Regions from separate parts of the Homo sapiens genome. Here region 2 is linked to region 1. A link means that fine-mapping ties the variant in region 1 to the expression of a gene that starts in the linked region. Tissue or cell type: whole blood. Region 1 holds a variant in brackets; the other region holds the start of a gene. All regions are shown on one strand. Distances are from middle to middle.

Evidence for each region. PIP is the estimated chance that this variant, and not a neighbour inherited with it, causes the effect.
Region 2: THBS4 starts here. The variant in region 1 is the best candidate, but not a certain one, in a credible set for the expression of THBS4 in whole blood (TOPMed, PIP 0.72).

Annotation. Positions count from the first base shown.
Region 1 is chr5:80,124,941-80,129,117 of GRCh38, forward strand. It overlaps a transcript of SERINC5 not described here. Among named protein-coding and RNA genes, the nearest start is that of THBS4-AS1, 43 kb to the left of the region's middle. The variant C/T (reference allele first, on the strand shown) is at 2,230.
Region 2 is chr5:80,033,749-80,038,027 of GRCh38, forward strand. THBS4 (thrombospondin 4) reads left to right here and starts at 1,600. Exons shown (of 22, transcript NM_003248.6): 1 at 1,600-1,877. The coding sequence starts at 1,790.

The DNA.
Region 1 (4,177 bases):
GAGAAGAGGGATGGTTCCAACCAAAAAAGGTAGGGGGATGGACATCCCAATAGGGGTCCACTCCATTCCTGATGGCACAGTGAGACAGTTGTCATGTGTCACGTGCTAGACTCTTGACTCTGTGCCTCCCAGTACCTGCTACTGACCAACATGGTCTAGTGAGCGATTTTTCTTGTGAAGGCATCCATCCATTCATTCATTCATATAGCAAACAATTGTACATCACAACCTTATGCTAGGTGCTAGGTATACAATGATAAAACAAACACAAAAACCAAAACCACAATCTCTACCCTCAATGTGAGGAGATACCACCACATAAACGAACAATTACAATACTGTGAAACATGTTATGCTCAATCTATGGCCTAAATCAGATGAGAGGCTGGGCAGAGGATCAGGCTGCCAAGAAATGCTTCCTAGAGGGCATGCTGCCCGAAATGAACCTTGAAAATCAGGGAGCTTGATAGAAATAGGGAAAGAGAGAGTGTTTCAGGCAGAAGCAAGGTTCACTGTCAAGGAAAGGCATTTCAGGAAACCAAAAGTAGTATCTGTTTGACATGAGCTATATTGGAGTGAGAGTACTGGGAGGTAGGCTAGAAAGGGGAACAGAGACTAGATATGAAGGAACTTGAAAGCCGTAAGTATATGAAGAAGGCAATGGGCTTTCTACACAGGAATGACCTTGAAGACTTGATTTGCATTATTGAAAGCTCACCATGGCTGGAATGGATTGGGGACGTCCGATGATGGGAAGACTCAGCTGGGCAGTTGCTGCATTAACTGTGGAGTTATAATGGTGACCTACGAGAGCAGCTTTGGATACGGAGAAGAGCAAACTGGTTTAAGAAACGTCATCACCTGGGTCAAGAAAAGGACATGCAGTGGGTTGGGTAGGGAGGAAAATAGATGTAAATAAAGTTATTAGTTGAAAAAGAAAAGCAAGATCGAGAGAGAAATTAATTCTATTGCCATCTATTCATGAGAATCACAAGGCTGAATCAAAAGCCTTCCTGCAAACCTAGACTCACGCTGGTTCAGTTCAGAGACTCTATCAGAAAGATGAGGAGCTCATGAGTCATCCATCAATGTGATCTTGTGATTTTTCTTGTGACCACAAGACAAAGGAAGAGAAGAGTACTTTGGAGTCATTATGATGAAAATTCAGTTGAATACACTGGAAAGTCAAAACGAGAGGAGAAGGAGGAACCGAAAATCTGATTCAGTCTTGACCACCAAGTAGAATTGGGACAGAAACAATTAAGTAGGCACAGATCCAATTTGGATTATAAAAAGCTGGTTCATCAGGAAGGCCACTATAAAACCAGAAGCAAACGAAGAGTCAATTAAGTACAAAAGTTTTTACTATGACTATGCAGTGAGGTCCAAACTGTACTAAATTTGAAGTTCCCTGCCAAAGAGAAATGTAAGCTTCCCTGGTGGTATAAGTCAGAATTTCATGACATCAGCCAGATAACCACAAAAGAATATATCTTTTAGTGCTAGATGCTTCTAAGCCTTTCTCCACCCAACTAACCAACATTCACTTACTGATTTACTTATTTCTTTAACAAACACACTCCATTTCATAGCCACATTCTTTCAAAGCTGACAGGTTGAGATATATCTAAAACACAAAATCTCCAACATACATTTTCTTCTTCAATGTTGTGAGATGTATTTTTCTAAAACACTGTTCTGCACATACTACCATTCCAATATTAAAAACAAGTTAGTTATCCACTGCCTTTTTTGTACAAATGAAATTCATAAATTTTAATTTGGTTACAAAAAAATTTTTCATCAAAATTTTTGCTTATTTGTTTATATAAAAATGGAGACAGGGTCTCACTATGTTGCCCAGGCTGGCCTCAAACTCCTAAGCTCAAGTGATCTTCCCACCTTGACCTCCCAAAGTGATAGGATTACAGGCATGCGATACCAAGCCTGGTATAATTTAAATTTTTAATTAAAAATTGTTAATTTGTCTACAAAATAAATATATACTCATCATCAAAAACTTTCAAAGAAGAAGATTAAAATCACCATAATTCCAACACCCAGACACAATCACAATCACTTCTGTAAGTTAGGATATACTGACAGCCTATGTGACAGGGAAAAAACTAAGTTGTAAGAATTTTTTAAAAACCTCCTATTCCCCATTACAGTAGATTTTATTACTCAAAATATTTGCTGCCCCACCCTGGGGAAGATAATACTTCCCCA[C/T]TTCATTGCATCAGCCTTAGAGATGTGGTTTGAGGTGTCCCTTCTTGTGGGAGGATTACATATTCTCATCTCCTTGACCTCAAGAGTGGCCATGAGACTTGCTTTGACCAATGCAATGATAACAGAAGTGATGTGTGCCACTTCGAAGCAGAAGCTCTGATTCATCATATGGTTCTACTATGTTCGTTCTCTCTTCCATGAAACCAGCAATATCCCAAATACAGACTGCTGGTCCCAGGATGGAAAACTTAGAGCAAAGCTACCGGTAGCCCACAATGTGAGCAAGAACTGAACTTTAGTCATTGTAAGCCACTGAGGGTTTTGGAGTTGCTTGTTACCACAGCATAACTTAGCCGACACTGACTGATACCACCTACCTCCAAAATGTCATCTGAGTTTTCTTTATGTCTGAAGAGAGCCTTTATGCATTGAAATAAATACTCCCTTTAATTTCAACTTATATTTTATATATTTAAATTATATGTTTTAAAACTTAATTTTGAAGACTTTAAACTTGTGTTAATTTATAAATCAGTTTTGTTAATATTTTATTATCTACTTTTATTTGGTTTTGATGAATGCCCAACTGGCTTGTAAATTTGATAAGGTACTCCCAAATATTTATCAAACTTTCAGAATTAAGTTTTAGACATTTCAAACTACAATCTAATTTTAATTGATTTCTCAAGGAAAAAAACAACAAAGCAGACTCACATTTCTATAGGCAAAATCTTAATAAACACTGAAAACATACTGAACTTAAAAAGTTTAACCTTACAAATTTAATAAATTATAAATTTAAAGATTTAACAATTTAAACATTTGAACATTATTTCAAACTTAGTTATCAACATCTTATAAATTTTTACTAATATTTTGAGTCTAATGAATCAGTCTCTTTACTTACCTTAAAAAGCAGAAAAATATACACAAAATACTATAATGGTTACAAAACTTATTTCTAGATAAAATTTATGACTAGACATAACTTAGCTTGTCTTCCAAGGGTCTTTGAAAGTATGTTTGTTTTCTGGCAATAAGAAGATATTTCCAGACTCATCTTGATATTTCCTGCCGTAAAACATGCAATGAATTTTTCTCCAGGGAGCCCAGTGCCCTCAGGGTCTTCTGGCTGGAATGCAGATTAGATGGATTGGCAAAGCAGCTGCTGGGGCCACAAGGGGAAACCAGAAATCCACAGTAATCTTTGACCTGACGTCCTTGAGCTGCTGAACCAACATCCCAGGTTTTTAAGTCCCTGTGGTCCATTTGTCAAATGCAATTCCTTACTGATATAATGGTTATACAAATAAAGAAGCCCAGAGAAAGCACTGCATATGGAAAGGAAAGATTGACCTAAAGGGGAAGATCTTGTGGGGAGGGGAGGCAGTGAAGAAAAGAGGAGGCAGGAAAGGGAACTGGGGAGAGAGGGGAGATCTGGCAGTTTCTGTGAAAGCAAATTAGTAAGGATTTTAAGAAAAGTTTGCCTTTATTCCATTGCCATAATGGGGATTAGAACAGTAACATCCATAGGATCATTGTGAGAATTATGCCAAGCACACATTAAGTGTTCAATAAACATTGGCTATCATTATTATTTTATTATGCTGGGCCTCCAGAATGGATTAGAGTTGCAGACTGGAACATTATAAGGAAATCCAGGAAGTCCATTCATTCTTACTCTTTCCCTCCCTCTCCTCTCTTCCACAATTGCTCCTCTGCACAGCTGTTTTAATCCTATATCTTTCTGCAGATTGGCTTTCTTTCTATGTCTGTGATGCTTAAAACAGTCACTAACAACATCTTTCAAGTTTCCAAACTCCTTGGTTCAAGACAGCAGCCATTTCGAAGAAATTTCCAGAAAGACACTGATTGTCCAGCTTAGATGGAAAGTCCACTCTTGGATCAATTAACTGAAGCTATGACAGGAGAGTTGTATGGAAAACAC
Region 2 (4,279 bases), 91 kb before region 1:
CCCTATTTTATGTATCAGAGTAGTCTATGGTGTGATATAGCATATTGCTGCTTTTGATGTTTGGTTTCATTTGTTCCCTGTAGGCACCTAATCACTGTTTTTTAAATTCCCCAGGAGATTCTGGTATACCCAATCAGCTGAGAACCACTGAATAGTGGCTTTCAAAATTTTGAGCATCCAAATATTGTCTTCACAGAAAATCTTAATCTCTGAAGTCTACTGTAAAAACATAGAAAGGCAAGGCTGTTCTGCTTGAAGCGTAGCTTGGGAGCCTAGATTCCTCTCAAACCCAGGCCACTCCTGGGAACATGGTCTGGAGATTTGAATGTTCCCAAATCTAGTTTATCTCATTAGTCGATATTTATGCACATCCTCTGTGTCTCTCAGTGTTCTCTCATGTGTAGACATATGCCCCATTCCAAAGAGTGACTGTAGTGTAATGTGGCATTAAAGGAACCCTGGATAGACCTGTATTGGACCTTACATATTAGAGAGCTCTGCAGATAGCTCACAAATCTCCAAGTCGCTAGCTGTAAATTGAGTGATAATTGGTGTCAGGTTATTTTAGCACAGTTTGGGGATAAAATGGTGCATTAATCTCCCAGTTTGTGGCTTATTAAACTTTGAAATGGAATTATTTGAGACATAAAAGAGATAGCAATACTTTGCTGGATGTTCTCCATTAGTCGAGATTGTTACAGAGGAGAAATTTTTGCCACTGTTTATCAAATATTTTTTCCTCTAGTTAATCCATATCATTCCGGGAGCTTTGCCCAGGAAAAGGACGAATTACTTGCGTTCCTCCGATCTCTTTCAAGTTCTACTCCCGTACCTTTAAACTGTCACACGGAATCTTTGGTGACAGAGGAATAGAGGTGGGCAAGCAGGGCGTTTGGAAACCATACTGAAAACGAATTATCCATAAAGCACAGATTCACCAGCCTAGAAATGGCTCTGTCTGGATGGATTCCTTGAGATGTGTTTTATCTCCATTAAAAACACAACAACTTTCAAACTTTCACTGTGTCTCAAAATGATAGAGAAAAAAATTCAGCCTTTCAAGTATTCAAGAAAAGCTTGAAGAAATAAAAGAAACTCGCTGCTCTCTGGGCCACTTTAGGAGGCAGAGCGTTCCTGGAGAACTTCAGGATTCATTCGCAAGGGAACCCAAGGTGGGCATTCAAAGCCGATCCAAAGGATATTCTTCTTTTTAGAAAACAAAAGGAGCGCAAGGAGTAGGGGACTGAAGGTGCCCAAAGCTAGTGGGTCAGTGTCACTTTCTTCCTCCCTTTCGCCCCTTTCCTCCCGCTCCTTTCTCCCCTGTGGTCTCTGCTCAGCACCCCTTTCTCTCCAGCCCCGACTGCCCATCTTCGCCCCTACCCTCGCGCGTCGGGGCCGTGTCTACACCCACCCCAGGACCTGGTCCGTCCAGGCTCCTTCCCATCCTCACACCCGCGCCTTTCTCCCTGCGGCCCCGGCTCGCTGCTCCAGCTGCCCAGCTCTTCCCAGGACAGGGGATCCCGCCAAGGGGGCCGCCCCCGCCCCGGCCCTCCCCCGCCCGGCCGCACCATAAAGCGCCCGGCCGCTGCCGCGGAGCCCAGCAGCCAGCTCCCCAGCACCGCACGGCGGGGACGCGAGCGCGCCCCCGACGGCAGCCCGGACGCCGAGCACGGGTCACCTGCGGCGCCGGCCCGGGCGCCGACCGAGGTTCAACGCACGGCCCGGGGACCCCCAGGCGGGGCCAACGCCGCCGTCGCCCCCGGCCTCGCGGGGAGCAGGAAGAGCCAACATGCTGGCCCCGCGCGGAGCCGCCGTCCTCCTGCTGCACCTGGTCCTGCAGCGGTGGCTAGCGGCAGGCGCCCAGGCCACCCCCCAGGGTAAGTGGGTTCGGGTCGGGCCTGGGAGCGCCGGGCACCGGGTGCCCCATCTGCTGAGTGAGTGGAGGGACTTGCTCGGCCCTGTGCTCCTGTGGCCTTGCTCAGCCCCTCTCTGTCCCTCCCGGGCCCAATCAAAGCATATTGTGATTGGAGGTAGTGATTAGTCTAGAATTTTCCGAAATTCGATTATCCAATGATGAGAACAATTGCCTAAATAGTTGGGGGATGCAAAATTGTTTCAGACTATGCAAAGATGTGGGGTGGGGTTGCCTTCAAAACTTGCTACACGGTCCTAGACCTCTTAACATGTTAGGCTCTGGTGTAGGGTGAATTCCGGGTCCTGCACCCTGTGCCGGTTCCCTCCAGGCAGCCTTGCTCCCTAAATCCTTCCTCAGGCGGAGCGATGTATGCCCAGAGTCTGCTCTTGACATCCCTGAGAAAGACGCAGAATTACTCTACTTGCCCTGCCACCTGCATTTTCTGCTCTGACTTTGCTTGAACGACAAAAAGAAAGTTTATTTCAAGGATTGGCTTGATGTCTTAATTTCTGAGGTAAATAGGAAGGGCTGAGAAACTGGTCTTTTTCAATGAAATCAGTTCTTTGCAGCAAGATGGATGCAGCTGGAGGCCATTTTCCTAAGTGGATTAAGGCAGGAACAGAAAAGCAAATACCATGTTCTCACAAGCGGGAGCTAAGCAGTGGATAGATATGGACATAAAGATGGAAACAGTAGACACTGGGGACTCCAAAAGTAGGGGGGAAGGTTGGGAAAACTACCAATTGGGTACTACGTTCACTGGGTGATGTGTTCACTAGAAGCTCAAATCCCACCTTATGCAATGCACCCATGTAACAAACTTGCACATGTACCCTCTGAATCTATAATTTAAAAAGAAAAAAGAAAGAAATTGATCTTTTTCTATGAAACGGTAAAAATTCAACAAATAATGTGAAAAGATACTTGGACAATCCTCAAACCCCTTGGTGAAATGGGGTGAAATAGCCATTGGGTAGAAAGCAGTTAAACAGAATTTTTTGTAAAGACCAAAAGGAAGACATGATTTAAGCAAAGAAAGATCTTAGGGCTATAACTGGCCCTAACTGGTCAGGCGTGAGCTTCATCTGTTTGAACTTGGTGCCTGGGTTGATTTATTACTGACTGTGGAAGTAAAACTGGAAGAGACGCACAACTTGAAGTAAAAGTTGTTTTTCCTCTTGTAGCCAGAGCAAAGACTGCCTATGAGGGCGTTCTCAACTTCCCTGCCTCTCGCTGCTGGAATCACCCATTTAAACTGCATTTCGCCAAATAACTCATTTTCATTCCAGACCAGACAACCAGAACTGTGGTTTCAGGGGTTAGAGTACTGCTAACTTTTAGTTTGTGTTGAAGTATTTGAAATGCTGTAGTCCGTGCCCCATACTTCTAGGAAGGTAAAAAAGGAAGCTTTTAAACACTTCAAAAGTCTTATTGTGATGATATTTGGCAAGTTCAAATTTATAGGTATAATTTTTTTGTGTTATATACGTTCTTGACTTTTGAACATACAGCTTTATGGTGTGCCTTAGGTATGTCTCAGACATACCTGACCATTTTATGGAGATTTGAACTCGGCCTATACAACCTAAATTATCTGGGTAATTTAGTTGCTGTAGATGATCTGATTAAGTTAAGTTTCTGATAGATTCTTTTATTGCATTATCTAGTCTGCAATTATCAGGCTTAACAGGATAATTTGATTATCTCCTTCTTCCCCTGAGCTTCATTGTTGGTCTTAAATTAGTATATATTCAATTTACATACCATGGTAGCTGCGCTCATTGGTAGCAGTAATTTCACCTCTAACAGTAGAGGGTTGTGCTTTGATCCTGGCACTTAAACGTAATAACATTAATAGAAAATGGTAGTGTCTCATTTCCTTTTCAAAACACTCTCTATGTTCATTACTAACTAATCCCATCTCTGCCGCTTGAGAGAGATGCAAATGAATCAGACGAACCATAGATTGAAATACCGCAAGTTTAGCTTGAGTTACATCATGAACCTGATCATAGTCAAAGGAAGAATCAAGAGTACTAAGAATTTTGTTTTGAATGTAGTTCCCATACTTTAAATACATATCTCTTTTCTGAAGATGTTTTGTCCTGAATGGAACTTTAAAACATATTGCCTTATTTCCCTTTGCCCTCATTAGTGGAAATGTAAAGTTTCCAATTCTCTTGAAAATTAAAAAATCCAATTTCCCTTTTGAAATGCAGTAGGCAACAGTGTTTATGGTTTAGGGATATAGGCACTAAGAGGAGCACAGTAAATGTTCTGCTTTCCAACACATCTCATGTTAATTTCATTATTGTGTAAGGACCCCTGGTACATGTGAAAAATACAGTATAGATCCAGTTTGAA